Linked DNA regions of Homo sapiens. The protein of the gene in region 1 purifies or fractionates together with the protein of each later gene. This does not show direct contact. Each region holds a gene or a part of one and is shown in the gene's direction. Other genes may lie near its edges. The genes, in order: PSG9, COLGALT2, APOL2 and SECISBP2L.

Evidence for each region.
Region 2: the proteins of PSG9 (region 1) and COLGALT2 purify together in Homo sapiens (affinity purification with mass spectrometry; 3 studies listed by BioGRID and IntAct, with this or other methods). This does not show direct contact.
Region 3: the proteins of PSG9 (region 1) and APOL2 purify together in Homo sapiens (affinity purification with mass spectrometry; 3 studies listed by BioGRID and IntAct, with this or other methods). This does not show direct contact.
Region 4: the proteins of PSG9 (region 1) and SECISBP2L purify together in Homo sapiens (affinity purification with mass spectrometry; 3 studies listed by BioGRID and IntAct, with this or other methods). This does not show direct contact.

Annotation. Positions count from the first base shown.
Region 1 is NC_000019.10:43,266,515-43,274,093, reverse strand, and holds the start of PSG9 (pregnancy-specific beta-1-glycoprotein 9 isoform 1 precursor), read left to right. Parts: upstream 1-4,563; 5' UTR 4,564-4,662; coding exon 4,663-4,726; intron 4,727-5,944; coding exon 5,945-6,310; intron 6,311-7,579. UniProt on the Homo sapiens protein: Binds to the small latent transforming growth factor-beta complex, consisting of the N-terminal TGFB1 latency-associated peptide (LAP) and the mature form of TGFB1, thereby leading to the activation of TGFB1.
Region 2 is NC_000001.11:184,027,726-184,034,751, reverse strand, and holds part of COLGALT2 (procollagen galactosyltransferase 2), read left to right. Parts: intron 1-7,026. UniProt on the Homo sapiens protein: Beta-galactosyltransferase that transfers beta-galactose to hydroxylysine residues of collagen.
Region 3 is NC_000022.11:36,229,519-36,236,544, reverse strand, and holds part of APOL2 (apolipoprotein L2), read left to right. Parts: intron 1-2,209; exon of another isoform or gene 2,210-2,309; intron 2,310-3,089; 5' UTR 3,090-3,143; intron 3,144-3,303; 5' UTR 3,304-3,382; coding exon 3,383-3,392; intron 3,393-5,078; coding exon 5,079-5,205; intron 5,206-7,026.
Region 4 is NC_000015.10:49,043,428-49,050,380, reverse strand, and holds the start of SECISBP2L (selenocysteine insertion sequence-binding protein 2-like), read left to right. Parts: upstream 1-3,934; 5' UTR 3,935-4,081; coding exon 4,082-4,105; intron 4,106-6,953. UniProt on the Homo sapiens protein: Binds SECIS (Sec insertion sequence) elements present on selenocysteine (Sec) protein mRNAs, but does not promote Sec incorporation into selenoproteins in vitro.

The DNA of each region.
Region 1 (7,579 bases):
TCACAATTCTTCCACAAGAGGCAATGCACACTTTAACATAGCACTTCAGCAAATAAAGTGGTGACAGTTTACCTACTTAGATTAAGTTTCTTAAAAGATTCTCCCAAATTTCCCCCTGAAGAAGACAGAAAAGGCTTTCCCAATTGTGAAACATTGGCTTCCCCACCTTTCAAAAAAGGACCCCAGAATAGCCAAAACAATCTTGCCAAAAGAAATTGTAGGACTTGAACTTTCTTATTTGAAATCTCACAAAGGAGTACAATTATTAAAACAGAAGCTGCTGGCAAAAGAATGGACATAAAGACAAATGGGATAGAATTGAGAGTCTAGAAATAAACCCTCACACTTATGGTCAATTACTCTTTGAAGAGGGTGTCAAGACAATTTAATGGAGGAACAATTCTCCTTTCTAATGATAGTGCAGAAACAACTAGATAACCACATGCAAAACAGTGAATTTAGATAACTCTACCTCCCACCATATCAAACAATTCTCTAAAAAATTGATCAGTGAGTTAAATATAAGATCTATAACCATAAAAACATCTTAAAATAGACATAGATGTAAATATTGATGACCTCAAATGTGCAATGGATTCTTAGATATGATACAAAAGCATGAGAAATAAGAAAAAAATATACATTGGGCTTTATCAAGATGTGAGCCTTTTGTACATCAAAGGAAATTATCAAGAAAATAATTAATAGATACAGAATGAGAGAAAATATTTGCAAACCACATATAGGCAGTTTTCATGTCCAGATAATATAAAGAACTAGCTACAACTCAATAACAAAAGGACAAACCATCCAATTTATAAATGGGCAAAAGACTCAAATAGACATTTCTTCAAGGAAGATATACAAATAGTCAAGAAGGACATGAGAAGATACGCAACATCATTAGTCGTTAGGAAAATACAAAGTCAAAGCATCAATGAGACACGACAACTCACCTACAAAACTGGCTACCATTCTTTTAAAATGTTAAATAACAAGTACCAGTATTATGTAGAATTTGGAATCTTCATACATTGCTGGTGAGAATATAAAAAGGAGAAACAGTTTTGCTTTTCCTCAAAAAGCTAATCATAGAATTCTCATTTGAAACAACTTCCATTCCTAGGTATATACCCAAAGAATTAAATCCAGGGACTCAAACAGGTACTTGCATGGGAATGTTGATTGCAGCATTATTCACAAAATATAAAATATGAAAACAATCCAAGTGCTCCTCAACACATCAATAAATAAATATGGTGACACATACAACAGAATGTTAATCTGCCATAAAGAGGAATGAAGCTCTGATACCCACTGGAACATGCATGGACTTTGGAAATATTATGCTAAGTGAAATATGTCAGAAACAAATTAACGTAAGTGTATAATTCCATTTATATTAGACATCAAGAATAGGCAAATTCATAGAGACAGAGTAGAGATGATCAAAGTCTAGGGTGGAACATACAAGGAGGTATTGTTTAAAAGATACAAAGTTTCAGTTTAAAATGATAAAAATTTTCTAGGGAAAATAGTGGTGATGGTAATTTAACACTGTGTATGTGGTTAATTTCACTTGATTGTGCATTTTAAAGTGGTTGAAATAGCACATTATTCACAGAACTGTGAAAAATAGATTTCTATTATATCGTTCACCCAAGCTAAGGTGTTTGTTATGGCAGCTGAAGCCCATGAATACATCATCTGACCCAGTGTGTCAATGAAACACATCAGTATTTCAATCAAATTAGCTGGAAGCTCCTGTCCCCAGGAGAATCAAAGGCCCCAAAACAAGAGCTCCAGCAAGGGCTCAACCAGCACAGGTCCCATAGGGCAGCCTCAATGTCAGGCCCTGGATGGCATGTGAGGCAACAGCAATACAACCACAACGTGAAAATGTAAGTATTTTTACTACTTCCAGACACTAGGGAGCACTCGGCACACCTGGAGACCACAGACACAGTGGTCAGTGACCCCATGCAGGGAGGAGAGAAGAGACCTGTAAGCGAATGGCTTTATTAAGTCCAGGGTGTTATCTGACAGGTTTCCAGCAGGGAGCTTTAATGGATGTGTTCAAAGCAAGCAGCAAACACTGGGACCAGGAGCTCACGCTGTGACTGAGAGGTAGTCACTTTAAATGTGAGGGCGAATGTCAGAATTATCAGTTTAAAGAAAGCAGCTTGAGAGAGGGGAGCCCAGCACACCAAGCAGGAGAGATGCCTCTAAGATTTTATCTCTGGACACCAACTGGAGCCACTTGAACCAGACACAGTATTGAAAACTACCATGGTGACCAAGCCCTGCCTCTGATTTGAGGCAAATAAACTTACACCTTAAAAAATGAATGCCAAGGCAACATGACACTATGAGCATCATGACATCCAGGGACACCAGCAGGGTGTGGTACTGTGCCCTGGAGTCAGAATCCTGGGTTCTGGTCCCTGGGAGTGAGAAAATGAAAATGACTTGTCCTTGCCCCCCTGACGTTGATCTTCCCACCCTGCTGCTCCCTCTTCTGCTCTCAAACCCATGTGCAGTGCTCAGCCCCAGGCATCACTGCCCCCAGGGTATTCACAGTGTTGCCTACTGCACACAAACACAAACTCACAGAAGGTGACAAAAATCTGCGTTTGGGACATCTGATTGTGAAAGAGGGATAACAGTGAACGTAGAGCCACAGAGACTGGGACTCACGGGGCTGGAAGGTGAAGGAGCTGTAACATAACATATGTGTGACCTCGTGTGAAGTGGAATAAAACATGCAGCCTGGCCTGGGATTGCTGCCGTTCACACTTCCCTCCCTGTCCACCAGAGGGCGACAGAGTCCCTCCCAGCCTGGAGCCTTCCCAGGGGATGCCAACCTCCCTCAGCGGAACCCACAGCCCAGCAGGGTCCACCCTCACCAGGGTCACTTCGGCCCAAGTCCTCAGCACCCTCCATGCTCCCCACACGGACTCTGTCAGTTCCTCCCTGACCTGGCGGCCGCCAACCTAACACCACTCCCTCTGCAGGGAGCTCCTGCCCCACACACCTGCTCCTTCCCTGGGCCCAGCTAAAGGCATCTCCCAGGGCAGCGCTGGTGCACGCGACGCCACACTGGGCGCTTTCCCCTCGTGAACTCTCTCCATCCTCATCAACTCTTTCTGTCACTGCTCCCTAAATGCCTGCCCCTGCTCCATCTGTCCTGTTCTCTGGGGCTTCCCAGGCCAAGCCTAGCGCCGACACAGAACAGCGGCTGCCTGAGGGCCCACAGCCTCCCCGGGAATCAGCCAGGCACCCTGTCACCTGCCTGCCCCCTGCACCCCAGGGGGCTCAGAGAGCGTGTGATGGTCATTCACAGGTACCATCCGGGATGTGGCCACCTACCCCCAGCTGTCCCTTGGGAAGACAGACCTCTCCTGTGTACTTGCGTGGAGAAGGGCGGTGTTATTGCTCTTTGCTCCCAGAACACAACTCACCCCCACCCGCCCTCTCAGGTGTGAGCAACGTCCCTCCAGAGAGCCTCTCTGGTCACTGCCTGTTCCTCCTCTACAGACAGCAGCTTGGCCAGGTCAAAACCCTCAGGACAGACCCCTGGGTGTGTCAGCACATGGAGGGCTGAGCCCATCATGGCCACGGAGTAAGTCGGGATGAATCTCTCCAGCTCTGAACCCCTGCTCTGTCCCAGGCTCCCCCTCCTGCGTCTCAATGAGCCATGTCCCGCGGGGTTCCTGGGTAACTCCCCACTTCCTCCTGCACCACCACGGGGAAGGTGTGGTGACCACAGGACAATCAGCTGGGCAGAGAAGAGAGGACATCAAAGATGGTCAGGGAGAACATGAGAAACCCTGAGCTCCAGCTCAGCCGCCAGACCCCAGGGAGCCATAGACTGACAGAGAACTGTCCCTTTGACTATGGGACTCACAGCCCCCACTGAGCAACCAGCACAGGCCTCTCCTCCTAAGAGGCATGAGAGATTCACCCTGCACACCTCCAGGAAGGACAGTTTCCTCTGGGACACCCAGGTCCTGAAAGTCCATCCTTGGAAGCTGCAGTCAAGCTTGACACGATTAGAGAAAGGAAGGGTCCCTCTCACCAGGCAACACACAGCTCACCCACAGCACAATGGGGTGTCACTGTGACAGGGACCTGGTGCATCTCCAGCCTCCTGCACTGAAGGGGAGAGCCAGATGGGGATGAAAGAGGGTAAAAGGCATGAATGTGCACCCCAACCCAGAGCCATGGGGACAGCAGGAGGCTGAGGCCCAGGACTGTGCTTGCCCAACCTGCAGGGTATGTGCCTGACTGTGTGGGTCTGTGTGTGTCTCTTCTGTGTGTGTGTGTGTGTGTGTGTGTGTGTGTGTGTGTCTGCACAAAGTGTGTGTTGAGGTTTGGTGAAAGAATCACTGCTGAAAAAGGCAGAGGCCTCCACAACTCCCAGGGACCTGAAACACAGACAAAAGGAAAAACAGAAGGAGGGACAAGGAGGCAGGACTGAGAGAGAAGGGGACAGAGAGGTGTCCTGGGACTGACCCCGCCCATGAGCTTGAGAAGTGCTCCTGCCCCGGGAAGAGGCTCAGCACAGAAGGAGGAAGGACAGCACAGCTGACAGCCGTGCTCAGACAGCTTCTGGATCCCAGGCTCATCTCCACAGAGGAGAACACACAGGCAGCAGAGACCATGGGGCCCCTCCCAGCCCCTTCCTGCACACAGCGCATCACCTGGAAGGGGCTCCTGCTCACAGGTGAGGAGAGAACTTCCTGGGAGAGGACAGGGGGAGGAAGCGGAGTGACTGGATGGGGTCTCCTGGAGAGGATGGGGTTGTAAAATAAAAGAAGCCAGCTCTTAGGGAGGCTGAGGTGGGTGGATCACGAGATCAGGAGTTCAAGATCAGTCCGGCCAATGCAGTGAAGCCCAGTCTCTCCTAAAAATATAAAAAATTAACCAGGTATGGTGGTGTACTCCTGTAATCCTAGCTACTCGGGAGGCTGAGGTGGGAGAATCATGTGAACCCGGGAGGCAGAAGTTGCAGCTAGCCGAGATACCGCCACTGCACGCCAGCCTGGGCGACAGTACGAGACTCCGTCTCAAAAAAAAAAGAAAAAAAGGAAAGAAGGCTCTGTTGCAGCCTGGATAGGGGAAAATACACCAGAGAGGGACAGGGGTCAAAAGAGGAAAGTCACATTGAACCGGAATTGGTAAGAGGTAGGAAAATCTTAAGTGTTCTGTTTTCCTGATTAATCATCCGGGGCCACCACATTTTGAAAAATGATAATAATAACTATATCAGATGACACTTCAAATAAAAATATAAGCAGGACATGAAACACTATCCTCAGCAAAAAACCTCAACAATTGGGGGAAAAAAAAACACCCAGGGCATGGAGGGCCCTGAGAACTCTCACATCTACAGGAGTCTGCAGCCTGTCCCAGGCACTGGGGTGCAACCAGGATCACAAAAGTCCCTGTCCTCACGGAGCTCACGCTGTCATGGGGAGGAAGACAGACATGCGAAGAGATGTAGAATGTGAGATCAGGTGTTGACAAGAACCCTGGAGGGAGCAGAGCAGGGAAAGGTCAGAAAGGGAAGACCCAGGGTCTCTGAAGGAGGTGTCAGGAAAGAAGTCTAAGGATGCCCTGATGTGAGCAGGACCTGAGGGCAGTGTGGAGGGGGCCGTGTGGACCCCTGGGGAAGAGGATTCCAAACAGAAAAATGCCAAGGTCAGAAGTGTTGAAGGAATGGGGGTCATGCTGCTGACCTTGACCTAGTAGGACAGTAGGACACACACACATACACATACACAAACACACATGCCCGTTTTTTGTGTGTGTTTGTTTGTATGTGTGCGTGTGTGTATCTTCAAGGCTGAGGATGGAAGAGACCTTCTCAGGACCCAGGGCCCCATCTTTTCACCACAATACATAGGTCTCAATATTAACTGATGCTGTCTCCCCCTCCTAGCATCACTTTTAAACTTCTGGAACCCGCCCACCACTGCCGAAGTCACGATTGAAGCCCAGCCACCCAAAGTTTCTGAGGGGAAGGATGTTCTTCTACTTGTCCACAATTTGCCCCAGAATCTTCCTGGCTACTTCTGGTACAAAGGGGAAATGACGGACCTCTACCATTACATTATATCGTATATAGTTGATGGTAAAATAATTATATATGGGCCTGCATACAGTGGAAGAGAAACAGTATATTCCAACGCATCCCTGCTGATCCAGAATGTCACCCGGAAGGATGCAGGAACCTACACCTTACACATCATAAAGCGAGGTGATGAGACTAGAGAAGAAATTCGACATTTCACCTTCACCTTATACTGTGAGTGATTCCACATGATCCCTGGGTGTTGGGGGGAAGGGGTCATTTCTACTTCACACACACAGGATTGTCAGGCCTGGACTCTGCCTGTGTCACTCTCTGCATTATGTCCCATGCTGGGGTTTGGGCATTTAGTGCAGGACACACACAGAGGAGACAAATTTCAACAGATCAGAATTCCTTTCCCGCATCCAGACCCTGCAGACACTCGCTGCAGAGGAAGGACAGTCTGATGGGGGGACTCAGCAGGAGGAGATCAGTCTCAGCCAAGCACATCATGCCCTCTTCATAAATTTGACCCTGAGAAAGACCCTGGAGAACTGAGTAGGGCTTGGCTTGAGGGGACCCCTGAGATACTCTCAGAGAAGCTCAGCCCTAGAAGCCTCAACCCCAGACCCCTGTCCCTAAATCCTTGCTCCAGTTAAGCTGAGGAGCCTGTGCCAGTGCTGGGTTGTGGCTTCTTGGGCAGGCCTTACTGGGACCAAGAATTTACCAGCTGTCTGAGGACTGTGTCTCCTGGAGCTGTTCACCAGCCAGGGCTCAGCCCTCAGAGTCTCATCTGGGCAAGGACAGAGCTTTTTCAGCTGACACTCAGAGTGGAGAGGACAGAAAGACAAGCTTTGTAGGACATCAGCCAACTGCCTTGGGAGGCTTAGGACAGTCCATAGAAAGTCTAATGTCCCCAGAAGCAGAAACAGAAGGGAGAAGATGTACCTGGTAGCAGCTTGTCCACAGGGATCTGACATAAGGTGCTTTCTCATGGAAGCAAATTAATAATAAATGCTGCTTGTGTGAAACCTCCACTGTGCCAAGCATTAGGTCAGGTGACTGTGAATCATTTAACATTTATTCACAGATAGCATGAAAAGCCACAGTCCATTTGCCATTTAGTTTATTTGATTGAGAGAAAACTGAGGCACAGGAAGGTGCAGTCACTGAACCAGAGTCACACAAACACAAAGGGGAGATCAGGGTCACATGAGGTCTGTCTGCAGCCACAGGCCTATCCTCTCCTCCACCAGAAGTGAGGGCTTACTGGGTTCCAAGGACCCCATAGTCATTTATTGGCTCAAATCCTCTCTTCTTAGGCATCCAAACCTCAGAGGAGTGAGAGCAAATGGTCAGCTGATTAGTCTGTATTCCAGAACTAAATCACCTGCCTCAACCATCAGAGTCAGTGCAAAAAATATGTCCAGGCCTCCCCCTCAGATCTTAACCCCCATCACTGAACGTGAAATCCTGTGTTTCCCAAAGTGTCCATGTCACTGT
Region 2 (7,026 bases), on another chromosome or scaffold:
AATAAGAGCTCGTGGTTCTTCTAAGAACTTCACATTCATTTTCTGGTTTAAGCTTCAAAATGACCCTATCAGATATGCACTGTTATTATACCACTTTACAGGTGAGAGAACTGAGGTACAGAGAGGCTGTACAAGCATATTCTTCTAATGCATTTTTTAAAATAAGAACCAGCCAGATCAGGGCTGAAAAAAAGTGTATTTAGATATGTGTGTTTTTTTACAGATAAATATGATTCATTTTACTGGGCAGTGTAAGGTGATCTGAATGGCTTTTAAAGGGTTTGGGGAAGAACCAAATGATTTATAAATCAGATTGGGGCAGTTGTATGGATATGGATGTCTTCTTGATGAGTGGACACTTAGTTTGAACTCAGTTTTGAAGGAAGAGTAAAAATCAACTAAAACCTGGGAAAGAAGGATGGCTCTAGAAAAAGGGATCAGCAAGGCAAAAAACAAGCAAAAAAAAAAAAAAAGATAATAGGGCATCAACCAGAGTTTTCTCTCAGGGAGTTCAAGTGGGTGGCAGGTCTAATGACTGCAAGTCTCCAAACAGATTGTATTGTACCATAGAATCTCTTTGGAAGTGCTGACTTCTGGTCTGGCCCTAGGGGAATATTTGGCTGGGAAGCTTATGAGATATAACACTCTGATGGGAGGTGGTACCTCAGTTTAGGATGTTACAGATTTGAGGTGCTTCTACCGATTGCTTGCCTCTAGTTTCTCATTCCCAAGCTCTATGCAACATTCCAAGATGCCAAACTGATTAGTATCCATTCTGCAAAGCCAGCACATGCTGATGTCAAAAATGGCTGTGAGCTACCCAGAACTTTGTAAAATAGAACCGCAGTGAATACAGAGCCACACAGAATTCAGCTTCCTCTGAATCTGACCACAATAACTCACTCTGTGCAGACTCACTCTTCTCATTCATCCACTCACAGGCTAGAGGAGCATCTGATTTCTGTCCCAGATGGGTCAGTGAGAGACCTGGCTTATTGATCACATTCAGACTCCCCTGTTATGTGATAATTTTTCTCACTTTAAGTTCTGGACCAGATCTGCACTGCACATACAGATGAAATGAGTATCATCAAATTGACCTGGAAGATACTGTTGTTGAAGAATGTCTGCAGTTATCTCAGTCAGCATCAAGTTTATTCAGATTAGTCTGAACAAAGGAAAATTTATATTTTAGAGATACTTTGTATAAGCAAAAAGGAAAGCTTTTTACATTTACCTGTCTGATCTCAAAATCCACCAAGCTAATTGTTTTCCTTCAAATATCACAATCCTGTGATAAGGACCTAAGGAAGATATCTATTTCATGTGTCCTAAAACCTGCACTAAGTTTTAGGGAATTGGGAATATGCTGAGATGAAGGGAACTGTGAGGCATTGTGACAAGTGGTAGTGTACTTCAGTGGGTTCTCCTTAATTCAGTGGAACCATGAGCAAGTAGCCTTAGCAACAGAGGGAAGGCTGACCTCATCCTCCTTAAACCTATGATTAGGGAGAGTGGGGCCAAGTACCATGACAGTGAAAACCGAAGCATGGCGCAGGGAAAAACATTTGCCCCAAATGAAACATTAAGTTTTTCTTTTGGAGAGCCTGCTGTTGCTTGTGGGAAGACAGTTGGGATTCACAGAGTCTGTGCAGGCACAAGGCAGTAACTGCTATGTAATTACAGAAAGATTTGGGCATTTTGTTTGGCAGAGTTTTGAAAAGTAACATACTAAATTGGGAACCGCTTTATGGATTTTTAAATAAAGAGAGGAGCTTCTGTTGACATAAACATAAACAGTGATGAGCTGGGGGATGGTCCTAACATTTTGCATACTACTTTATTTCTGCATTGTTTGGGGATTATCTTGAATTTATCTCCACATTTTAATGTCCAATCAGTAGCATTTTCATAATTGTTTAACTAGAAATACTAATATACTTTGTGTTTATAAACTGTTCCAAACTAGTATCAGTGACATTTTTCAGCACCAGTGGTAAGAATGATGTCATATTTTATCATTACACTCTTGATATTAAATGTTGTATGTTATCCCTACAGATAGAAGTTTCGGTTTATGGCTGAAAAAGCAGATGATGCCTTAGGCCCCTTCTGTCTGTTAGTCTGTTTTCCTCACCTTTTTCCTCCTTTCCTCATTTTCCCAATCTGGTAGTTTAGCGTGGAGGGCATCAACCAGAGTTGGAGGAAGAAATATACAAGCTTAGGGTCAGATAGACTAGAGCATAAATCTTCTGTGTGATTGTGGGCACATCAGTAAACCTCTAAGACATAGCTGCCTTATCTTCAAATAACTAATAGTAACACCTGTCTCAAAGAGTTATTGTTACAAGTAAATGATATAAGGTATGCACAGTGTCTTTTACATAAATGCTACTAACAATGATAGTTGCTATTTCTTTTGAATCTTTTCCTTTTTCTCCTATCTCCTTTACCTTTACCTTTCAAAATCAAGATTTTAAAAAATCTTCAAATGGAAATTTGTTTAGTTTCTTCTTTCCAACAACAACAAAAAATATTAGTATAGGAAACTAACATTTATCTGGATGCAGTGGCTCATGCCTGTAATCCTAGCACTTTGGGGGGCCGAGGTGGGCAGATTTCTTAAGCCAAGGAGTTCAAGACCAGCCTGGGCAACATGGTGAAACTCCATCTCTACAAGAAATGTAAAAATCATCCAGGCACGATGGCATGCACCTATAGTCCCAGCTACTTGGGAGACTGTGGGTGGATTGCTTGAACCTAGGAGGTGGAGGTTGCAGCAAGCCGAGATTGAGCCACTGTGCTTCTTCCTGGGCAACACAGCGAGACCCTGTCTCAAAAGAAAAGAAAAAGGAAAAGGTAAGGGAAGGGAAAAATAAAGAACTAAGGAAGGAAGGAAGGAAGGAAGGAAGGAAGGAAGGAAGGAAGGAAGGATACATTCATGGAGGCACTGTTCTAGACACTTTGGTATCAAAACTGATTTACTCCAGACAACAACCCTAGGTGGGAGATGCCATTACATTCTACTCTATCACTTTACACAGAAGGAAACCGAGGCACAGAGAATATAAATAACTTGCCTGAGGTCACTAGGCTAATGCATGGTGGAGCCAGGATGTGACCCAGGCAGCTAATGTTGCAGACCGAGTACAGATGGTCTGCTTAAGATTGTGAAAAGACCAATTAGTTCTAGTTTTTGCTTCTGTCGGTTGACCCAACTTGGGAAGATAAGAACGCTAGTGTTTCTTTCAAATAAGAATTGTCATTTCCACTTGAATGATGCAAGGGTCTTAGTGGTTCTCTTCCGCTGTCTTGATAATTTCATCACTTAGTTCAGGCACTTTTTAGTGAACTCTAATCTGTTTTGGTATATTTCATAGGGACAGATTATGACTAAAATGTGGGTTGTACATAAATATGCAGGTCACTTGCTGTGATCATAGCTACATAACAGTAGAAAGAAATTTCTCAAGTATTATTAGTGGCAAATGATTAAGGTGGCACTAATCATACACGTATTGGCTACATTTTCAGTTCATATTGGTAAAATAGAGATTCCATTTTTCAGGCTTTTTAATCAGTAGTCTTAGATTTGGTTGTCCCCTAAATTCAGCTTCATTCCAAATGATTGAAGAAATTATCAATCCTCCCTGCAACCTCCAATTTCAAAATATGATTGGAGCTCAGAATATTTCCTCTGGGTAAAAACTGAAGTGACTAATAAATGACACCAATCCTGTTGTTCCAGTTATGACAGCTTAACTACAGAATTAGTAAGAATGCCTAAGTTGCCCTGGTTTTATTATATTGAGTTCCATGATGAGGCATCTAAAGCACAGGGCAGTTAAGAGATTCCCATGGTGATTATGGAATGAGATAACTGATTTCTAGATTTTTAATCCTGTGTAGCTGTTTTAATGCTGATTATTTTATAATGAATATCCTTCTTGGTTTAAAGGAGCATGGGGAGTATTTTAAGCAGAGTTTGGTTTTCTCAGATCTGTTTTTAGCTCCTTTATCCAAGTGATTAGGCCAGGGAGTTTCTTTGTGACTCCAAATACATAAGCATGTGCTTCTTAGGTTCCTTTTGCTTGTCTGTTTCTGGTGGTCATAGGAATGAACAATGAATGCCTTGTAACTGAGAAGGCTGCTGGTTGTCTCTTGGTTCTTTTTCCAACACTTAAACGTGCACTTGGGTCATATTGCTGTGTGGCACCGTCTCCAAGTCTATGGCACAGTATAGTAGGACCATTATAAGGCTTATATAGGACTATAGTAGGACAATAATAAGGCTTGTTTCTGCATATTTCTTGACATAGCATAACAACATACAGTAAAGTCTGAAAGAAAATCATTAGCCTATGGTATGGCCACTACACCTATTCCCCAGTTACCATATCATGAAGAACTTTTACCATATGTGTTTAAATTATAGCTATTATTCATCAGGAATTACAAAACGTATGTATTCTATGTTTTGACATTTTTATTTCAAAAGAGTGACTTGTTCATTTAATTGCATTTAATTGATATGTTGTTAGCATATCAAAAATTGTTAGTTTTTAAAAATTTGAATCCCTTAGGGTCTTTATGGATTTTTAATAGTACTTCAGTTATTTTAAGAATTTGCTCTTCTGACTTTTTTAAATGGGAAAGTAATAAAAAAAGTATGATTGGGAATATCACAAAAAGTAAATCTCCCATCTACTCTATACCACCTGCCAGTGACCAATATTAACACTTTCTTTCATATTTTTCTAGAAACTTTCTATACATATACATATATCCTTTTCATTTTAACCCAAATATGAGTGTTTTACATATCCAGTTCTGGATAAGTGTGATATTTTAAAATCCATCTCTCTATCCCATGTTCTTTAAACACTGCCAGCCTATCTACAGCCATGCCCTGGGTGGCACAATAAAAGCCAGCTTCATATAACACCTGTTCCAGGCAGGTACTCTGAAGGCCTCTCTGATAACACCCGTCCTGCTCTCTTGTCCTTGTCTCTCTGGCCTCTAGAAGGTCTGGCCCTAATAAAAAAAACTTTTTGATGAGGTGTAATATTTATCCAAAAGTTCATATATCATAAATGTATAACTTGGTAACTTTTCACAGACAAAACATGCCATGTAACCAGCACCTGACCTTGCCAGGCCTGGATTCATACACAGCAACTATTGTTGGAGCTGAGTAGCTGCTGTCCCCTGGATTTTGTCCAGGCAGCCCAGTCCCCATCAGACCCACACTGTGTGCACTTGCAGTTAGTCCCCGCTGTCTTTCTTTGACTTGACTTGCCTGACCCATGTTGACATTTGGGTGGTGAGCTTTGCTCCCACCTCAGGCTGCTGAAGGAACCCTAGGACCCAAGCAGTAACTACTTTGGGGAACCAGCAGGCTTGGCAAGCTGCCAGCGAGTGACCTAGTGGTAAAAGGATCAGGATTGTATTACTTTTCCCTTAGCTCTCTACTCCTCTGGTAGGAAAGCTGTGCATTAATGTTCATAAAAATAAAAATCTCATTATAGGTAATAATTGAAAAGTCAGGTAGAATATAAATAGAGTGGCTGTAATTAATTTGCTGGAACTTTCTGTAGTTCAGATCCGTGAAAATGCAGCATTTGTGGTAGGTGGCATTAGCCAAGTCTCTTGCATGAATTAAACCTCAGATTTGGCTGCAGGGCGTTTCTTTTCCTCTCTAGGAGCACCATACAGAAATCCTTTCAGAGTTAGACTTTGAATAATAGCTCCATGACATCTTGCTAGGGCTGACTTTGTAACGTGTTTCACTTAATTGAAGCAACAATTATTATTTTAGTTGTTTGTCAAATTCAGCAAGCTAAGGCCTGTCCCCTGACTTGTTGGTTTAACTGATAAGATTTTGTTCCTCTGCAAACATAATGCAAAATAATCTCCTTCCCTCCAGTGTTTTCTGATTAATGTTTGAAGACATCTTAGAAGATATGTCTTTCAGAAACACAAATAATAACATAAATAATGATCTTAGAATAGTGATCTTGGGCTGTATACCCCCAAGAGTATGGTAGAAGATGAGTCTGGGACAAGCTGCTGAGCTGAAGCATTTTCATGAGTACCTGATTTCATTCACACATTGGCTTTATTGGAATAGTTCATTACCTTCCAGGTTGAATCACTTCAAGACCTATTGAGGGATACATCAGGCTGCAGAGAGGAGGTTCCTTACATAGAGCTTTCCCCATTTGGACTGCCAAGCCCAAAGTGCATACAATTGCTGCCAAGAGGGAAGTAGGACTGTTTCTTTCCAGTCCCTTTTCTTTCTGAGAGTGATTGTATATGTTTTGGAGATGGGGAGGGCAGTGGTGAAGGCAAGTATCTCATTCTCACAAGAGAGAGACATAACTCTAAGACAGGAGAGTCTGTGGAGGTACATTGATTGGTGTTCTCCCTGAAAGCCATATTAAGTGAGAAACTGCTGCATTTTAGAGTCTTGGGAAAGGTAGAATTTTCTAGAGACTAACAGTAGAACTTAAATTCTTGGGATAGTTGTGAAAAGTGTGGTTGTAGACATTTGGGGCCATAGCATTCCCGACACGGAGTCCCTTGCTGGACTAATAGACTGTTTTTTAGTTTCTTGGTTGCCAGCCAGCCCCATAATCCTGTCTCAGCACCACACACCACAATGATTATGGTTTACACCCGCCAAGATAGTGGAAAGTTGCTGCCAAGTGGAATCAGGATTTTTCATGTCATCACTGCACCATTGAACAGTAAGCTTATATGCAGCTTCCACGCCACTGCTTTCCTTGTGCTAGAAACAGGTTGGGCGGGAGAGTATTCAGACAGTCAGACCATCTCTTGTGTTGCAAATGGATTTTGTGGAATTGGCATGTAAGGCTTGAAACAGCCAGCATACGAAAATATTTTAGAAAAGTACAAGCCTCTTCTCTGCCTTTCCTCAATCTTGTTAGATTTTAATAAAATTTATTGGGTACGTTGGTTTCCATTGTAAGCTTTTTATTTAGCAAGACAAACTATGGATTTCTA
Region 3 (7,026 bases), on another chromosome or scaffold:
TGAATCGGTATTATCATTATTACTTATAGTGTCATTATTAGTCATTTTCATCTTGTTTGTACACTCCCTCTATCTCTCCTCTCCACCTTTTCCTAATATTGTATCACCAGTTTTATGTCCTCCATTAGCAACTTTGTAGCTGTAAACAATTTACTTACAACTTTCTTTCTTATACTCTCAGTTTTACCTAGTATTTCTTGACTCCCCTCTTTAAAAGATGACAATATTAATCCTCCTTCTCCTTCGTTCAGTGCTTCACATCCCAACTGCTACCTTTGTGCTTTAAGTTTGTACTAATCGGTAACAAGTATATTTAGTTCTCATATTTATATGCTCTGTTCTGTTCTCAAAGTTAAAAATCAATCAAGAGTGTTTACATTTTGTGATGTTTTAAATACTATTTACTGTGGAGCTGAGTTGTACACCATGTTTGCACATGTTTTGTGGCACAGCTTTACTTTTTCCTGATGTTTCTAATTGCCTTTGTTTTTTTTCCTCCCTTGTACTGCTTGCCTTCTTCATTTCCTCAGTTTCTCTCAAACTGTGAATCCTTTGAGGTATTCTATTGAGTCCCTTTTTCCCACAGAACCATTCCCTTTTTATTCCATCCTGGACTGGTCGTTTTGTAGGCCTACTGCATGTCCCACTGTGATCCTCAGATTCCCTTCTCTCTGGGTTGATTTTCCTGTTTTCTGGATCCCATGTCTTTTTCTTTCTTGGTTATCCCCACCTGCCCTCCATGGATGCACAACACATACACACACACACACACACACACACACACACACCCACCCACCCACCCTTTCTTCCTCCCGGTGGCTCATTCTCAAGTAGCTTTCTTAGAACACCCTGTGACCCTGTGCCTGGTAACTTTTCTATTCCCCATATAGCTCCTTTTCCTCTGTCATCTTTTTGGTTTATTTTCTGGAGGATTTCCGTGACTTTCTTTCACATGGTCTCTCTAGACTTGTTTATTTGATCATCACCTTTTAGTTTCTAGAAAATCTCTTTTTTTGTTTGTTTCATTGATTTTTCTTCTTTTCTATATATCTTGTTTTAAGTTTATGAATAAAATATTTTTTAATCTCCCTGAGGACATGGGTTTGAGATTTAAAAAATTACTTGTTTGTTCTGGACTCCTTTTGTATTTGGTCATCTTGGTCTGTTTCCCCACTTTCACCTTTCTCCAATTTCTGATCCTAGATCTATTCATATTGAACGGGGTGGGGGGCAGGTCTACTGGCAGTCTTCCCTGTAGGGTGATTGAATGGGAACCCACTGAAGTGTCAGAATACAAAGATATTATTTCTGGGGCATATTGCTTCAGTCATGAACTCTCTGATTTTTTTCACTGGTGTAGACTCAAGGCTGGCATGAATCCCATATGGCACGTGGGCCTGGTGAACTCCTCCCCTCTCTGAGGCTCTGCCTAGTAGACCACTCTGCCTGGCTGGATGCCCTCTTGGCATTGCTGTGGTTCACAGCTCCCTTCACCCCTCTTTATTCAGTTGTCATTTCTTCAGCCAGTTCTGTTTTCCAACATCTCTTGGCATCTCTGATCTCCTGTTGCCCTCATTTAAATTTTCATTGGCAGCAGAGGGTGCAGAGGCAGTGCGTGAGTTCTTGAGTCCGTCTGTCTGGGTGGGAACCCAGTCTTTACCACGTAGTAGATTCTGAGCTTGGGCAAGTCACTGAACATCTGTTTCAGTTTTCTTACCTGAAAATGGAAATACCAATGGTACACACTTCCTAGGTTCTTGGAAGAGTTCTGTGAGTTACTATTTATAACATCTTAGAGCAATTAGTGGTGCAAAATCCACCAATGTTTGCCCACATTAACATTAAGTGCCATTATACCTGTAAGTGCCTTGACTATGGCTGTAGTTTGATCTCAGGAGGGGAGGTTGATAAATGCTCTTCTGTCTTCTTAAAACAGTGCCTAAAGATGATTAATATGATTAACATTTGCTATTTTCCCTCACCTCCCAGGGTAAGATAATCAGGAGCAGAATGTGAAGAACTTTCCTCTATATAAAGATCAGCATTTATTCAGGCCGGGTGTCGTGGCTCATGTTTGTAATCCAGCACTTTAGAGGGCAGGGTGGGAGGATCCCCTAAGGCCAGGATTTTGCCAGCAGCCTGGGCTGCATACTAGGAGTGAGACCTTGTCTCAAGGAATAATGTTTTGTTTTGTTTTGTTTTCCTGAAGAAAAGACTACTGAGAGCCAGTAAGACTGAAAGAATGGACATCTTCATATCCTGTTAGTTTGAGTGTGAATTTGTACAGTTTTCATACAGAGTGGCTCTAGGTATAAAAACTTTTGAGATGTTAATAGCTTTTGACCTAGTCATTCTACTCTTAAAAGTATCTTAAGGAAATAATCTCAAATGTGAGCAGTTTTACGTGAGGGAGGATATTCTTTGTAGCATAATTTATATGAAGAATTAGAAACACCCTAAGGTCCATCAGCTAGGGGAGGACAGCAGAGGGGACGGGGAAGCATCAGGAGGGCTCGGCAGCCACAGCAGGGGCTGGGCCGGCATCTAGCAGGATCCAGGTCTTTGTGGGACAAAGAATCTTAGAGAAGCAACGGGGACACAGGCTGTCCACTGCAGCACCAGTGAGTTCACCAAGACGAAGAGTTGAGCACAGAGTGTGAGACAGGGATTTGCAATGAGGAGTCATTTACCATGAGCGTGTATACATGACTCAATATTGTATATTTAAGGGAGTAGAGCACAGTAATTGAAGACATGGGATTGAAGCAGAAGTCCTGGCTCTAGCACTATTGTGAAAACACCCATAAGTTCCCTAACTTTTGTGGATTCCTCTGTGTTCAAATGGGAAAGTGGTACCCATCTCCTGTCCTGTGTGTGATCATCGAATGAGATACATGTCAGAGGCCATGCACATCACAGACACACAATACACACTGGCTATCATCAACTAGTTATCATACATGTTCCCAGGCCCAGGTCATTGTCAGAATGTTCCCTCCCATCTCTATTCCTGTGTATAGACTCTGTAGTTTCTGTAATGATCAGATGGCTGCCCCTCCTCTGATTATCTTCTTCTCATACCCCTACAGGACAAGAGGACCCTGCCTTGGTGTGAGAGTGAGGGAAGAGGAAGCTGGAACGAGGTGAGTTTCTGTAAATACTAGCTGGCAGGGCCCCAGGAGATAAACACTCTGGACATTTGCTGCTACCACAGAGGGATCTGCAAAGACCCAGCCCCTCCAGCCTCCCTCTGTACACAGGAGGCTCACCTTCGATCCCACAATTTGTTTTCTCGTTCTCAAGGGTTAAGGAAAACCTTCCAGTCTGGACAGTGACTGGAGAGCTCCAAGGAAAGCCCCTCGGTAACCCAGCCGCTGGCACCATGAACCCAGGTAGGCTCGCTTCCTCTTTCCTGGCTAGTTCCTACTCGCACCTAGAATGGAGGGTGGCACCTCCACAGCTGAGTGAGCCCCAGAAGAACCCAGATGGACTAGGAGGCCAATGAGTCTGCCCCGAGCAGCAGAAGAGGTCACGTGGAGTCCCCCGACCCAGGGGTCTGGGGGTCATCTGCATCCTGACCTCTCCTCGGGGTGACACGGCCCAGGTGCCCACTTCCTCCCTACCCTGTCACCCAGCAGATGACTCAAGTGGGGCAGGACAGCCATGAGGAAGTGGAACAAGCAAGAGAGGGGAGTGGGGGAAGAGCAGGGTCCAGGAGGAGGGGAGGGGTGGGAGAGGAGGTTGACCTGCAGCCCTGATCTCTTATCTACCGCTCTTCTCCCTGCTGACCCAGGGTTTTTTCCAGCACAGGCCGGTCCCCTCCCTCCAGCTCTTGCCCTGCACCAGCCCCTCTGTTCTGAGTGGCCCTATGGGAATGTATCATGCTTGACCCAGCTTCCAACTTAAATGGACCCCGGTCTGGCCTTTTCCAAGTCCCTTCTGTGTGACCTGGAGCTCCTTACCTCCCCTCTCGTGTACCATGAAAATAATATTTCCCCATGTTGTCACGAAGATTAAATATTATAAGGGTACCTGGCCTGGCCAAAGCCTGCCACACAGTAGGGCCTCCCTAAGAATTAGTTTGCATCCCCTCTATCTCCTCTATCTATCCCCTGTTGATTCCAGGTGGAAGCCACCCAGTCCCCTCATCTGTGTTAGGGCACCCGCCCTGCACTGCCCATCACAAGCACCTGCTGACCAGGGATGACTGCCTCAGGCAGGGCCTCATTCCCATGATCTCAGATACCCCTTGTCAAAGAAAAATCTGAGGCACAGTAACATTTATTTGAATAAGAAGGAATTCATGAATTGAGAAAACCAAACTGGAAGAGGCTTCATGTTATGATGAAAAAGTGTCAGAGACAAGTATTTATCGAGTAAATATGAAACTGCAATAAGGACATTATTTGATTGGTTGCAGTTACAAAACTGCCTGTTTTGATTTACCTTTTTGGAAAATTCCTGGTCACATTGGTGCTGGTGGGTTTAGGAAGTTCTCCGAATCCAGGAGAGACCAGACCTTAGCCTTGTCCAGGTTTTTGACTCCACTGAGAGAAAAAATTTGAGTCAAAGAAAAAACAAATCAGCTGCAAAGCAGAAGCACAGGCTCAGGGATGGAAGTGCAGGTGGACTCAGAAGAGCCAGTTGGGCCCAGTGGGGTTTGGGGTTTCTGTCTTTGATGGTTTATTAAATTAAGGGGTTGGAGCCTTGGGAGGACTCTCTTGCTGGCTTGCGGCAGCTGCCTTTGCGCTGTGTGCTTACCTGGCCTTATTGTTTCTCTTTCTCTTCTTACAATAGGACACTAGCCCTCTAGTAGGATTAGAGCCCTACCCTTGTGATCTCATTCAGTCTTAATTGCTTCCTTAAAGGCCCAATCTTCAAATATAGTCACTCGAGTTTAGGGCTTCAGCATATGAATTTTGGGGGCACACAATCCCTCTATAGCACTGATGACTCCATCAAACATGTCCCACATCACAGTTGTCCAGGAAAAATTAACATGTAACCACCTAATGTGCAATGGCTGTTATGCTCCCCTACACTATCCTCCAACCTTATCCTTTCTTCTTTCCAACTAGAGAGCAGTATCTTTATTGAGGATTACCTTAAGTATTTCCAGGACCAAGTGAGCAGAGAGAATCTGCTACAACTGCTGACTGATGATGAAGCCTGGAATGGATTCGTGGCTGCTGCTGAACTGCCCAGGTAAGCTCCATGGGGTTAACTCCATGGGGCGCCCCAGCGATGCCACTCAGATCTCCCCTGGGCTGGTTGTCCCTGACAGGCACACCTCCTCCAGGCAGCCCCCTCTGCTGGGCTTGAGGATGACCTTCTCGGCACTCCAGGAGGAATATTTCCTCCATGTCCTTCGCTGGCAGTGAGTAGCCTCAGGCTGAGGGGATAGGAAGCCCACAGGAACAGGGTCATTTCTGCCATCTGCTGGTGATGGGAACTTTGCCAGTTACTTTCTCACTTTCAGCCTTTCTTCATCAATGGAGTTTTATTATGAGAAAAATGAGATCATGCATGTAAAGTGCTTAGCATAATGACTGACACATAGTAGGTGCACAGTTAACGTTAACATCTTACAAGCTTGGTGGAAAGAGACCAGGGTTAAGGATCTTCTTCTTGAAGATGGGAGCCCAGCAGGACTTCCTTTGGGAAAAGTCAGAAAAATCCTAACCTAAACAATATGTGTTCCTGGGGATGCTGGCTGGGGCCTTTTTTCTCATCTGAAGAATTCCACAAACACAGCAGGACCCTTCTGCTGGTCCAGGATCCTGAGAGGCCTAGTTCCTGGGCTCTGGGCTTATGTCATGGAGACTTGGAACTGTCTTCTGTCCAATAGGAATAGCAATTCAATGTCATAGGAGTGTGGTGAAGGCCTTAGAGGCAACTCCAGGTCAAAGGTGGGGAACCAAGGACTAAGATCCTGCTCAAAGGCCCAGAGAGACCGGGACCAGTGTCAGAGCCTGGAGTCAGGATGGAGTAAGAGTCAGCCTTGGTTTGGTAGGACAAGCAGGAAGGCTGGGGCACCAGGGCTGGGACTAGGGTGTGGAAAGAGAGGCACCAAGGGCTTGAAACTTAAGGAGGTCATGAACTTGCAGAGGACATGTGAGTGGGAGAGGGATATTTCTTCCCTGTCTGGATGATCCCAACACTCATGGGCATACAGGGTCATGGTAGCCTGTGTCTCTCACCCCATGCCTTGGAACTGGTGAGTTCTGGACTACCCTTTCAGACCTTCTTCTCTTCTACACAGAGAAGCTCCTTACCATGGCATGCCTTAGTGACCATTTCCAAAGTAGAATGAGTTGCTGCCAATTTGTGTAATTTCAGGGGTACTGAGCAGACTCACAAAGTCCCAACCGAGGAGGAAAACACTTCCTCTACCATCTTGACCAAATTCAGGTCTTTTCAGCATTAGCAATTTATATAGATGGTTCTGAAAGTGTCTTGAGTCTTCTAGTGGTTCCATAAAATTGCACATGGCCTTGCTGTGCACACAGGTGAAGCTGTCACTGCTAAGGCATCAGTTAGGCTGGTGACACCTGCGAGTGAGACCTGGAAGGTTGGGGGTGCAGGTGGTAGGTCAGGAGGCAGTAAGGTGGCTGGAGCGTCCATGTGGAGCCAGAATGAATAGCCAGATCTCCCACTCCAGTCAGCTGGGGCAGTGGCCGCACCCAGTAGCCTTCAGCCAGGTGAAAGGGCATGAGGCATTGGAAGGGAGCAGATGCCAGGCAAAGTGATCTCCTGTCTTTCTGAGGTTTTGTTTTTGTTTGAATTCAAAGTACTCAGAGATAGCCAGACTGCAATGTCTGAGGGCACCCTTACCTTTGACACCACCTGCAAATCTATGGGGATTCCTAAAATCATCCTTAGATTTTATAATTCACTAGAAGGACTCACGTAACTCACTGAAAACTGCTATTGCACGATTGTGGTTTATCACAGGGAAAGAACACAGATTAAAATCAGCCTAAGGAAGAGACACACAGGGCAGAGTCTGGGAGGATTTCAGGTGTG
Region 4 (6,953 bases), on another chromosome or scaffold:
ATTGATGGGATCCCAGGAATTCTGCCTGAAGCCATTTTAAAAGGGAATCCAGCAAATAAGGCTGGCTTGCTCTTCCCCAAATTGATCAAGCTGAGATTTAAACCCTCAGAAGCACAAGGGCTGAGGGCTAGGGTCATAAGTGACTGCTCTGAGATGACTTTGCTGCATGTAAACATGCAGGAAAGTAGTAATTAAACATCTGAGAAGCTCTGCCATCCTCCCCCTCACAGTCCAAACCTAGAGAAATCTAAAAGCCTAATCTGAGTATTTAAGGTACAGGAGGTGGAGATAAAAAATGTAGAAAACAAAACTGAAGTGGACCAAGCCACGTCCTTCACTGCAGGCTTCCAGCTTGAAGCAGGACTGAGCTGGGGAAAAGGAGAAGTTTTGACGTGGAATAAAGTTTGTGTGACCTTCACGAGATTTCATCCAAGGCAGAAAAAGAAATCATCTTCAGAGAATTTGAAGGTACAGGACAATAAATAATAATTCTACTTGCACCCTAGTGAATCCTGCTCCTTCAATAAAATGCACATGCCTAACAAAACCCCAACCCTGGATGAAAGAATCCTGATTTAATATAATATTACAGCTCATTTATTCAATAAATATTTGTGGAGCACCTGTTGCATGCTAGGCTTTGGTATAGGTAGTAAGAATAACAACAATGTATAAGACAAGCATTTGATATAAGTAGAGAAGTTTTCAATGTCACTGGAGGTAATGGTGACATTCTATGTTTTGATAGAGATTTGAATTACATAGGTGTATGCGTTTGTTAAAGCTAGAATTCAATATTTGGTTATAGTTTTTTCTTTTGAGATAAAATGTACATATAATGACATGTACATAATTTAACTATATGTTTGCTGAATTTTGACAAGTGCCTAGTCACCACAACTCCACCTCTCTTTATTGTCAGCAGGTAACCTTGCCTCCTACATCACTGAGAAAACAGAAGCCATTAGGCATTCCCTCAACTTTTGGCACCAAACTTACAAATGTATATAATCTGTAGCCATATTGATCTTTTCTTCCTTTCTTCTGTTACAGTAGATAACATGCCCCTACTCCCATCAAAGGCCTCTTTCTTGCCCCTGGTATTTGTGTCCTATCCCCTCCGAGCTTCTCAGAGGCCTTCATCTATTGGATTATCCCTCACATTCTGAACCCTCATTCCAAGGGATGAGCTTGTGTGAGTACTAAAGGCTGAATTTTCTCTTTCCTCAGAATGCTAACATGTGCCATTTCCTCTTCTTGAAACAATTTTCCTACTTCTTCTCCTTTACTGATCATAACTCCTACTCAGGTCTTTTTGTAGATGCTATTTACTCAAATAGCCTTCCCTGACCTTCCATCCCTTACCATGGTAGCACCTATTATACTTCCTTTTTCATTACACTCATCTCACTTATAAAGACTTCTCCTATGCATGTCTTGCCCACAAGACAAACATGGTCTCAGCCCTCAAGGTGTCTCATAAACTGCTGTACCTCTAGTATTTAGCATAGTACCTTGCACATTAAATATTTATTGGTGAATAAAATAATTTGCATTCATTTATATCATCTGTAAAGTGTAGTATTTTTAATATGTCTTACTTTTTTTCACAGATTTTAATTTTTTATCTACTAGCTATTGCCATCTTTTTAAAGATTACATTAAATGAGAAGGGCATTGTGACATTTCTGTTCTCATAATTCTTATGATTCTGTTCTTATAATTTTAATGAATGTCTTGTACATAGATTCTCAATGAAAACAATTTTACAGTCATAAAAATCCTATAATGTGGAAAGATCCTTGGGAATCCTATATTTAAATTTCCTCAGATCATTCCTCAGAAGAAGGAAGAAAAGCAAAAGTACTATAGTATTTTTATGAGTGCATTGCTATTATCTTTTTACTCAGATGAGGGTATATTATGGCTATAGACCACCAGTAGGAAGACAATCTGAAAATTCAGTTATTTTGTCTTTCAATTGTGAAGGAGGACGGTCATCTGTTAGTTTACATAACTACTCCTTATAAATAACTTAGTTTTTCTGAGCAACCAACCCTAAATTCATTCAGCATTCACTGAATCCCAGCTAGGTGTGTGATAGGCACCAGGGACCTAACATTACGTTAATTGCACATATATTTACAAATGTTACATAAATTTGCAGTTCAAATACACATGCATTGATATTAAATTTGAGGTGGCAGAAAATTTACTAAAATTAAATAAATATATTTAAATGTAAATATAAATGTGTAAATATAAATGTTTCTCCTTTCAAGATGTTTCTATTGCCAGCCTTGATATAAGTCTTGCTGACACAATATAGCTCCTTTCAGCAGGCCAATATATAATACAGGTTGAATGTCCCTTATTTTGACATACTTGAAACCATAAGTGTTTCAGATTTTGGATTTTGGAAGATTTGCATTATACTTACTGGTTGAGCATCTCTAAACTGGAAGTCCAAAATCTGAAATGTTCCAGCGAACATTATCCTTAAATGTCATGTCTGTGCTCAGAAAGTTTCTAATTTTGGAACATTTGGGATTCAAGAGGGTTTGGAATTTCATAGTTTCCATTAGAGATACCCAACCTGTATCAACATAAGTACAGCAAGGGGCCTTCACATAACAAGCCTCATATTGGAGTCTAATAACCAGACTAATAACCTAGACTAACTGAAAAGGCAATTAGTCTTTACTGATATCTCCTGAAGCATGACAAAGCAAATTTCTTAAAATCTCTTTCCCATTCCTAGCTGTGGATCTCCACACCAGTGCCCCAAACAGCAGCCACCTCAACTCTACCTTCACTTAAGTGTAATTTAGCTTATACAGTTGTCCCTAAGTATCCCAGGGGGGATATTGGCTCCAGGATCCCTGCTGATACCAAAATCCATGAGTGCTAAAGATCCTTATATAAAATGGTGTAGTATTTGCATACAATCCATGCATATCCTCCGATATACTTTAAATCATCTCTAGATTACTTATAATACCTAATACAATGTAAATGCTGTATAAGCAGTTGTTAAACTGTATTACTTGTATTTTATTGTTGTACTTGATATTTCTTTTTTCCTCAAAATATTTCTATCCGCAGTTGGTTGAATCTTCACAGAGGGTGTGGGTGTTGGAGGGTGTGTCTGAGGAGATGCCCAGAAGAAATTTGCCATGCTAACGGTAGTGCCCAGTTTCAAGACAGTCTCTGCCCTTAAGGAGCTAAGGATCTGAAGATAAAATAATTACCCGTTGGGTGGTGTTATACAGATCCTGCATAAAATTAGGATTTCTGAGATGGGCGAGGTCAGCCTGGATGTGAGCCTAGAAGTGGGCATGAACCTGGATAATGAATTAACTCTCAATAAATATTTGTGGGGAGCTTCCTAGCGGGCCTCTTCCAGTCATTCTGTGTATGCGTTTTACATATGCATTTTTCTAGGGCAAGACTCCATTATTTTCAGAATATTCTCATTCCTTTATAGTCATGACTCCCTTTATTTGCGTAACATAAGGAAGGAGCAGATGTACGGTGGGCAGATGAAAGCTTTTCCAACATCACTAAGAGGTGGTTTCAGATCCTGAAGAGGTCTTTGAAGTCCCGGGAGACCTGGGTCCCAAGTGGTCTGACACTTCTCGTTTAACAGTCGCAGGGGTGGCGTGTGGTTCGGGGCACCTGCTCCTGGGCGCCTCCACCTGGCCTTAGCCTCCAGGCCAGGCCGGGTTCCTCCTACCCTTGCTGAGGCCATTTGCTGTCACTCCGCCCACTGCCCCTCTCTGCCTCCTCCCCACTCCTTTTCCTTCCGTGCGCCTCCATTTCTAACTACGCCTCCAGCCCATTCGGGCCCTCCTCGGCTTCCGTCCCAGATGATCCCTCCCCGAAGCTGCCACCGCCTCCTCCATCTCCCGGAGCTGGAGCCGCCTCCTCGGCCAGTGGCGTAGCCGAATCGGTGTCGCGGCCAGCCAGATAGGGGCGGAGGTCCGGAACCCAGTCTGGACCCGAGCGGGGGGCCATGGAGAAAGCGGCCCGAGGCGCTGTTTACACCGACTAGCGCGGGCCCGTTGCGGCTGCAGGCACCATGGACCGAGCCCCCACGGAGCAGGTACGCGGGTTTGGGCTGGGCCCGCCGAGCCGGGGGTTGGGGTCGCCGCTTCCTCACAGGCCAGGCCCAGTTCTCCGAACGTGGGGACCGGGGGCCGGTCCTGCGGCCGCAGACCCCCTCACCTGGGAGCCTGGCAGCTCCCAGCTCTCCTTCATTGTTCCAGCTGCTGCCTGGGACTTGGGGGCTTTTCCAACCCTGATTACTTCCCAGGCGGAGGGCTCGCCGTTGCCGCTTCTCCCCTGCTTGGTGAAGGGGTCAGAAGGCTCCAAGTTGTCCCTGCTCTCCTGGGAGGAGGGCTTATAACTTCTAGTAGTCTCCCCGCTTCCCCCATTCCCTTCAGCTCTGGAATGTGTTTTCAAGGTGGAAAGGCGTTTGAAGGCTTCTCACCCAGAAAGACTGTAAGAGAATGTGTGGTAACTACAGATGAAGGGAAGTCACGGGCCTTTTAGGTCTGTGTTCAATGGAGCGAAGCATTGTTTTTGCAGTGGTTTTACGGAGGTGTTTCTTTTAAGAAACGATACTACGATTTCCCCTTGTCCTTTTATCCAGTTATTTTGCAAAGAATTGTAATTAGTGGGTTTTTTTTTAAAGCTAGCTCTATTTTAAGGGTGTAAAGCATAAGCTTATTTTCGAACCCGTTTTCATATTCGCAAAGTAGTCCTATTAGTGTTCTGTTTTATTTTTATTTGCATCAAATTCCTGATTATGCATGCTAGTAGGTGGTAGCAGGCAGGGATGATAACAGTGTTAAAAGTAATCGAAAACAATAGTTTCCCCCCCAGTATTTTCCACTCTTAAGATCTCTGCGAAACGACTTAATTTGAAGTCCAAGTTTATTCACTCTCTATTCCCTTCTTCGAAGGCCTTGCCCATTGATGACTAGATGACGGAAGAAGAGAGGCTAGTAATTTCTGCCTATTAATTTTACAGTTGGATAATTAGCACCTGAATTAATGAGATAAGATTTCCCAAATTCCTGTATGTGTCTATATGTAGTTGAAGCCGGTTTGTATTTTGAAATCGGACTCTTAGCAGGCAAAGCACAGCTTCCTAGTTGTGTATACTTGTTTTTACAGAAGACTTTTTTTTTTAAAAAAAAGCTTTATGTGAATGTAACTCTGAAGACACAAATGAGTTTTATAAAACAATACATGGAATTACCAAAGAGAAATTGATACAGAGTCTCTTGGCAAATACACTTAGGCATTTATGTGACCCAGAAGTATTCTGTATACAGCCTGTATCTAGTTTAATTTAAAAACATTTTTGAAGGTATCTATCATAAATACCTGAGATTTCAAAGCCTGACAAATGAATACGAATTTTCCTTGAATCATTTCCTTGTATGTGTGTTACTAATGAAAGGGTTCAACATTTTGTTCCTTCACTAGGATGCCAGGACTAAAACCAGTAATGCTACCTTATGTATACTTAGAGTTCCTTTCATCCTAGAGGAAATATAATTAACTATTTAGATGGTAATTTTTAGCATAGCTGTTTGTGATTATCCTAGCAGCAAGTGCTGTGAGCAAATTATTTAAACTAGAGAGCCTTTTCCCCTTTCCACATCTTTCCAAAGTCCACGACCTATTAAAACCTTGTAGAAATTTAAGAACTAGGAAAAAAACATGGAAGAAGGTTTTCTGTTGACTTTTTTTTCTTCCAGTACTTCTTGCCTCTTCCCCAGCCTAACCCTAAATGAAAGAATAATTTGAAAATCCTCCACTTCCCTATACACTCAGAAAATATATATAGAAAAGTGATGTCTTCACCTCATTTATGCGATAGGCAGTTAATTCAGGGGTCCATGAATGACCTAGAAGGAGTATGCTTCTTTATATGCCTTTTTCTAGGGCAAGAATCCATTATTTTCATCGTATTCTCAAAGGACGGCTAAGAACCATTAACTTAATAGTAGATTGGGAACTGAGATTTCTCAATTTTGTGGAATTCTTGATTCTTTATGCCATAGAGTCATGTAATGGCTTTTCCAGGATATTTGGATTATACTTTTGTATTTCTACTATTGAAGTGAATTTAGGTAGATTGACGTCATTGAAAAGTATATGTAATATGTGTCAATTTCCATTTTTCCTCACAGAATGTTTTTTTCCCTTTAGACCAGTGTTGACATACTCAGAATTTCTCTAGATGCCTACAGCATTAAAACTTACTCATTATAGTATTGTGGTAGTTAGCAATTCATAGAAGTTTGGTTTTTAAAAAGTAGTACTTAATATAGACTTTCTGCATTTTATCTTAACCTAATTAAATCCTTGTGTACTTTACAAGTGTAACTTTAAAAAAAAAACGCTTTTTTTTTGCCTGAAGGCATTCATGTTCTTGTTCTTGTGAATTACCTTTTTTTAATATATAAAATCTTTTTATAGAAAAGGTAAATTGTATGTGTGCTGATCAAGATTGTAAAAAGTAACTTACTGGGAATACAGTGCTAGATGGATAATCTTAATTGCAATAATGATTATTTGAAAGAATGTTATAACTAGAAGAAAATCTTAGGAGTATCCTCTTTCAGCACTTTTTATAGAGTATTCTCTGTATTTAATCAAAATAGCTAGCTTAATTTTAACTGCCAGAGTTAAATATTCTAAGAATATGTGTTGCTTGGTATATAATGCATTTTTTCCCCTGAAAAAAAAAAAAAAACTTGCATTTTGAGATGTGAAGGATAAATCATGGAGTTCATTTTGTTTATAAAGGCTTACTGGTTCTATTTTTAGGAAATTTATTGAGATTTTTTAAAGTAAACAATGGGCTTAGAAGTGACAGAACACTTGAGGTTAACAGTCTCTTTTCTGTTATCACAAATAATTTAAATGTTGGCTTA